Regions from separate parts of the Homo sapiens genome. Here region 1 is linked to region 2. The links come from fine-mapping of genetic effects on gene expression. A gene starts in region 2. The other region holds a variant in brackets. All regions are shown on one strand. Distances are between the middles of the regions.

Region 1 (2,786 bases), 120 kb after region 2:
AATACAATGATGAGTAAGTCTGCATTTCAGCCTTCAAGTTGCTTATAAACCCTACCTAAAATAGAAATCGGACTAGTACATACCTGACTTGGATATAAGAAAACTTGTACTAGGGTCCTCAGAGATGTATAAATAAAATGTTTTGTGAAGAGAAAGAAATCGTATCAATTTTCTTATGGGTTTGCTTGGGTAGAGGGCTTGGGGAGCAGGAAGTATTTCCTGAGGACAGCTTTAAGGATGTGCAAGGTTTTGATAGGTGGCGAGAATGATATTCACCTACGTAAAGTGTTGGGATGGATAAAGTTGGGGTGATTATGGAAGGAAAAGTCATATGGTATGTTTGGAACATAACATTGGTAAGCGAAGAGGAGACATGAAAGAAGAGGAAGGGAGGAACCGAGAGACCTAGAGAGTATAGAACGTCTGGAATGTAATTAGCACATCAGTTTGGTAGGCATTAGAAAAACTTTACCCACTTTTGAGCTAAGGAATCACATGATTGGGTTATAGTTTGAAAGATTAATCTGCTCACCACAGATGGCATCACCAAGAAGAACTGGAAAACCTGGAGGGAGGCAAATTAGGAAGCTATTGGGATAGTCTCCATAAGAGGTAGTAAAGTTCTGAACTAGGATGACCATAATAGGAATATAAAGAGGGTTTGGGAGAGATACTGTAGATGAATATTCTATAGGCTTTGGCTTGGGATTGGCTATGAAAGGTGGGAAACAGGAAGCAGTTAAAGATTCAATTTAATATCTGTTGTCAACTTTTAAATCAACCAACATTTATGGAAAGCCAGCCATGTGCAAGACATTGTGCTCAGTATTGAGAGAAATAAGAATGGTCCTGTTCTCAAGTAGCTGAAAATTTAGTTGGGGATATAAAATATGTTCTCAGGCCAGGTGCAGTGGCTCACACCTGTCATCCCAGCACTTTGGGAGGCCGAGGCGGGTGGATCACGAGGTCAGGAGTTCGAGACCAGCCTGACCAACATGGTGAAACCCCATCTCTAAATACAAAAATTAGCCAAGCATGGTGGCATATGGCTGAAATCCCAGCTACTGGGGAGGCTGAGGCAGGAGAATGGCTTGAACCCAGAAGGTGGAGGTTGTAGTGAGCTGAGATCGCTCTACTGCACTCCAGCCTAAGCGAGAGCAAGACTCTGTCTTGAAAAAAAAAAATTAGCTCAACTAAAATCCAAAGCAGGCCATGATTAGTGAGATAATGAGAGTTGAGCAAAGATTATGAGAACACGAGAGAGTGGCATTAATTCTGACACTGCAAAAGTGGGGAAGTTTATTGGGGGAAAACACTTTGTCTGGGCTTTGAAGATCAGATAAAAGATTCCAAAGTACTTTAACTGTCAGAAATGTAGCTGGAAAACTAACAGAGGCAAGTCTCAAGGAAGCTAAGGGAGGAGGAGCTCGCTGACAAGAGTAGCTCTTACTTATTGAGTGCCTAGGGTATGTCAGATCTTGAGCTTAGAGCTTTATATTTAAGGGAGTGTTCAGCGTATCATGCCGCAAAGTCATCACCAATGTTGTGATCTAAGAAAGGACCAATGGATTTGGCAATTT[A/G]AGAATGCTGTGTGAATTTGAAGAGGTTTCAGTATAGAAATATAGCTGAAAACACAGCAAACACAGGATGAAAACATTCTAAAGGTTATTACTTATCTTGAGTACATAAGTACACCAGTGAGGAAAAGCCTGCACTGTTTCTGTGACTTCTCCTTAATGGGCAAAGTTTATATAAGCCTCAGAAGATCTTTATGCTTGGGTTGGTCTTAGAGGTGTCATTTGAGAATGTGCTAGTCCTGTGAAGTCTTTGCACACTTTAAAATACTGCAAAAATGTTAGGCTCCCAGATTATTTTCTTGCAATTAAAAGATCTCCACACTTACTACCAGCTTTCCTCCTCCTCCCTGCTACCTCCTTCCTCCTTCCCACTCCTTCCCTTTGGGCACCAGCTGATAATGGTGAGCACACTTGCCACACCCTTGGCTTAGGGTCAGGGAAGTCCTCGGGCTCTCCTTGGCTCTTTTCCCATCTGGAGGGAGATTTCCATGGAGAACAATCCAGGGAAGTGCGTGCACGTGCGTGCGCGCACACAGACACATACACCAGTTCTTTTCCTGTCCTCAAGGATATTTATGTGCCAGTACATAGACAAAACACACAGTCATATGCAGGCGTACTTTGTCACACCCAGCCTGAGGAAACACAGGGCAGGGGTGCAATATGCTAGCAGGAGGTGATAGGGATACTATTAATAATTGAAACTTTAGGAATAATAATAGAGCTTGTTAAAGAAAAATTCAGAAATTGCTTTGTTAAGATGAACAGCCTATTATTATAAAATGTAAAGGGGTGAAATTTATATCATGGTTATGTTTAGTTGGTTTTTGTTTTTTCAAGCAATTATATAGCCAACCGGGCTTGATAAAAGAACTTTCACAGAGGTACCCATATTATTACAAAGGGGTATTTTAAATTGTATCAAACCATCCTATAATTTAACAGGAATAACAAGAGAGAAATTAACAGGAGTAGTAGAATGGAAGAAGAAGCAATTGCTCCTAAACCCCACAAAGGCACAAAAGTACATGAGTATGGAGAGTGAGCGTGTTTACAATCATTCATTCACTCATTCATCCATTCACTTGATCACTCAATCCACAAACGTTTGCTGAATTCCTGTTTTATCCCAGGCCGGCAGCTGACAGATATAGCTGAGCAGAGAAAACAGGCAAAATTTTAGATAAAATACATCCTTCTTATAGGAAA
Region 2 (2,786 bases):
CCGCCTCTCCCCCCGTCCGCCCTCGCCGCGCACTCCTCCTAGTAACTTCTGTTCGGGGAGGCGCTGCCAGGAATAACCCGGTGCGTCCACAGCCCGGGAGGGGAGGCGGCCGCTGCGGCTCCCGCACGCAGACAGCTGCGGCCCGGGCCTCGCGGCTCCCGCCTGAGCCCGGCGGCCCCTGCCCCGGGCCCATCTCCGTACAGTGTCAGAAAAATAAATAAAGGCAAGAGGAGCCTGGGCTGGCGGTCGGGATCTTTTCCCTCCCTCCGCGCCCGCCCTCCCTCTGTCCTTAAGGAAATGCTACCAGACACCCCCCACCAGACACGCTCAGCCTTGGCGAGGAGCGGCCGCCGCGGCAGCGAGAACAAGGGCACCAGGGGGGTTTCCTCCCCCTCCTCCTCTCCCTCCTCCTCCCCGTCCTCCTTCTCCTCCTCCTCAGCGGTGACTTTCCAGGTGAGCGGCCGCCGCGGCTGCGAGGATCCCCCTCGCCCGCTGGGGCTCGGGCCGCCGCGTCGCGCCCTCCTCCCGCCCCTGTCACCCGGCGGCGGCCGGGAGCTGACAGCCGCCCGAGGGGCTCGCGGCCCGGAGGCGGGCGGCCGGCGGGAGGCGGGCTGGAGGTGAGGGGGTGGAGAGGAGGAGAGCGGGGCGCCGCCGAGCGCCGTCGTTCCCCGCAGGAGGGTCTCCGCACAAACATCTTCGGTGACTGTGGCACAAGTCTTTGCCAAGTTGTGTCTTGGACCTTGACGCTCCACGGAGCCCAGAGCAACTTGGAGGGTCTCCCGGCTCGTTCACAGCGTTCCTCCACGTCTCGCGTCTGGGGTGCTGGGTGCAGCCTCGGGGTGCGCGGAGGGCGGACCGGCCACCGCGAGAGCGGAGCGGCGGGAATCTAGGTCCCTCCTCGGCTCGGTAAGTGGCCTGGACGCTGGGTTTTTCCTGCCTCCTTCGGCGCTGGGAGCTTGTTTCACTTTATATTGGAATCGCCGCCGCCGAACTCCGTCCCCCGCTCCCCGGCGTGTGCCCCCAGCCCCTTCCCGGTGGCCCGAGGGTGAGGGTCGGAGGGGGCGGGGATGGGGGAGACCGCGGGAGGGGTGTCGGGCGCGTGGGGAAATGCGGGGAATACCCTGGCCGCGGATCTATGCAGATGAGGGGAGGCTGCTTTGCGTAATGTCCTGGGGGGAGGGGGCCGCGCGGGAGCGCTGGAGGCAGGAATGTGCCTGCTTACTAATGAGCGACGTGCACCGGCGCGCACGGCCCGGCCACCGCTGCGGCTGCGGCGGCCGGCGGCGGCCCGTTGTCAGGTAGCGGGGGAGGGGGCCGCGGCGCGCGGCGCAGGCGGCCGGGCGGGCTGGCGGCGCGAGGCCCGGGCCGCCGGCCTGCGGCCGAGCGAGCGCAGCGAAGGCGCTGGCTCTGGGCATTTCAGTGACTCCCTTTACCTCCCGGGCAAGGAAGGAAGGAAGGAAGGAGCGAAGGAAGGAAGCGAGGAAGGAGGGGACTGTCTCGATGGAAGGTTCAGGCGGAGGCGCCCTCGCCTTGCGGGTGCACCGGCTGCAGAGCGGCTCTGGCCGCTGCCGGCTGGACCCGGGCGCGTGGAGACGGGTGGGGGCGGTTTGCATGCGTGTTTGTCTGTCCGTCTGGCGGGGGATCGGGAAGGGACATGTGTGTTTGGGCTGTGCACTGTGGGGAACTGGGTCTGCGCCTTTATGTCTGTTCCCTGAAGTGGGTGGAACGTTGGCCCGTTCCGGGAATGTTCCATGACGTGGTGCAGCCACAGGAAGGGGGTTAACGAGGGGCTCTCTGCCGCGGCGGCACTGCCGGCTGCTATCAAAGCAGATGTGCTGCTGCTGCTCCTCCTCCTCTTTCACCTCCTTTCACCCCCACCCCCCGCCTTTCCATTCTGTGCCTCTGGTACTGGTAGGGGTGAGACAGGAAAACATTGCTCTGGGTGTGTGCGTGTGTGTGTGTGTGTGTGGGTGTGTGGGGGAGGGGGTGCTGATGTGCATGTGTGGGGTCTGTCGTATTTGGTGGGGGGGGGGGGTGGACTCCAGATCCGCTCTGCTACCCCAGCTGTTATCACAGATCGGTGCGCTTTATACGCATGTGCCTCCCGCGTTCTGTCCCTCTTACATAACACATCCAGTGCAGCAGAGGACATGAGAAAATGCGACCCCAACCCTCCAAGCCCAAATTGGGTGAGGGGATAGAAGGTCAGGAAGCGTCCCTGGGTGTTGTCCTTCAGGGACTTGGTTCCCAGTGGGGGAAAGGAAGAAGGGAAGGAGGGTTTCTTCAAGTGGCTCCTCTCATCTCTGACTTAAAAGCATCTAACTAAAAAGGACTGCAGGCACTAGTCTTCCCTAACGGGAAAGCTTGTAACTAGCTACACCAAGGGAACGGGGGCACTTTAACCTCGGGAGTGCGGAGAAGAGAGAGGGTCCTTAATCAAGACACTTGGAGGAGAGAAGCAATAATGTGTGGGCGGCGGATGGGGGGCGCTGGGGATGACTTCGAGGAGACCAGAGGAATCTCTTGATAATAGGTTTCACTGGAGGCCTTAGGACACCTGTAATGGCTTAGCATTCACACAGGAAGTTGTGTGTGCAACTGACATTGCAAAACCCTTATTCTCTGCAGAGTTATTTAGGCCTAAAATGAATATAGAAAGGCTTGTTTCCTGTACTTTCATTATAATGGAAAATTTGAGCTGATTTTTCTCCTTCCTTTTCTGCCATTTTAAAAATAACTCAATTTACCTCCAAATGAATATTGGTACTCGCCCCCAACCCTAAAGC

Direction of the effects. Positions count from the first base shown, and alleles are read on the strand shown. Sizes are in standard deviations (SD) of each study's normalised expression.
For the expression in CD4 T cells of the gene that starts at base 1,221 in region 2, A is the low allele of the variant in region 1 and G is the other (large effect, 0.82 SD a copy in CEDAR).

The links. PIP is the estimated chance that this variant, and not a neighbour inherited with it, causes the effect. A credible set is the group of variants that fine-mapping cannot tell apart.
Region 1: its variant is the best candidate, but not a certain one, in a credible set for the expression of HIVEP2 in CD4 T cells (CEDAR, PIP 0.88).

What each region holds. Positions count from the first base shown.
Region 1 is chr6:142,826,843-142,829,628 of GRCh38, reverse strand. The region is part of intron 2 of HIVEP2 (HIVEP zinc finger 2); the gene reads left to right. Among named protein-coding and RNA genes, the nearest start is that of HIVEP2, 120 kb to the left of the region's middle. The variant A/G (reference allele first, on the strand shown) is at 1,581.
Region 2 is chr6:142,943,611-142,946,396 of GRCh38, reverse strand. It overlaps HIVEP2 (HIVEP zinc finger 2), which reads left to right and starts at 1,221. Exons shown (of 10, transcript NM_006734.4): 1 at 1,221-1,298. RefSeq lists silencers at 1-621, 852-1,081, 1,282-1,381, 1,522-1,591.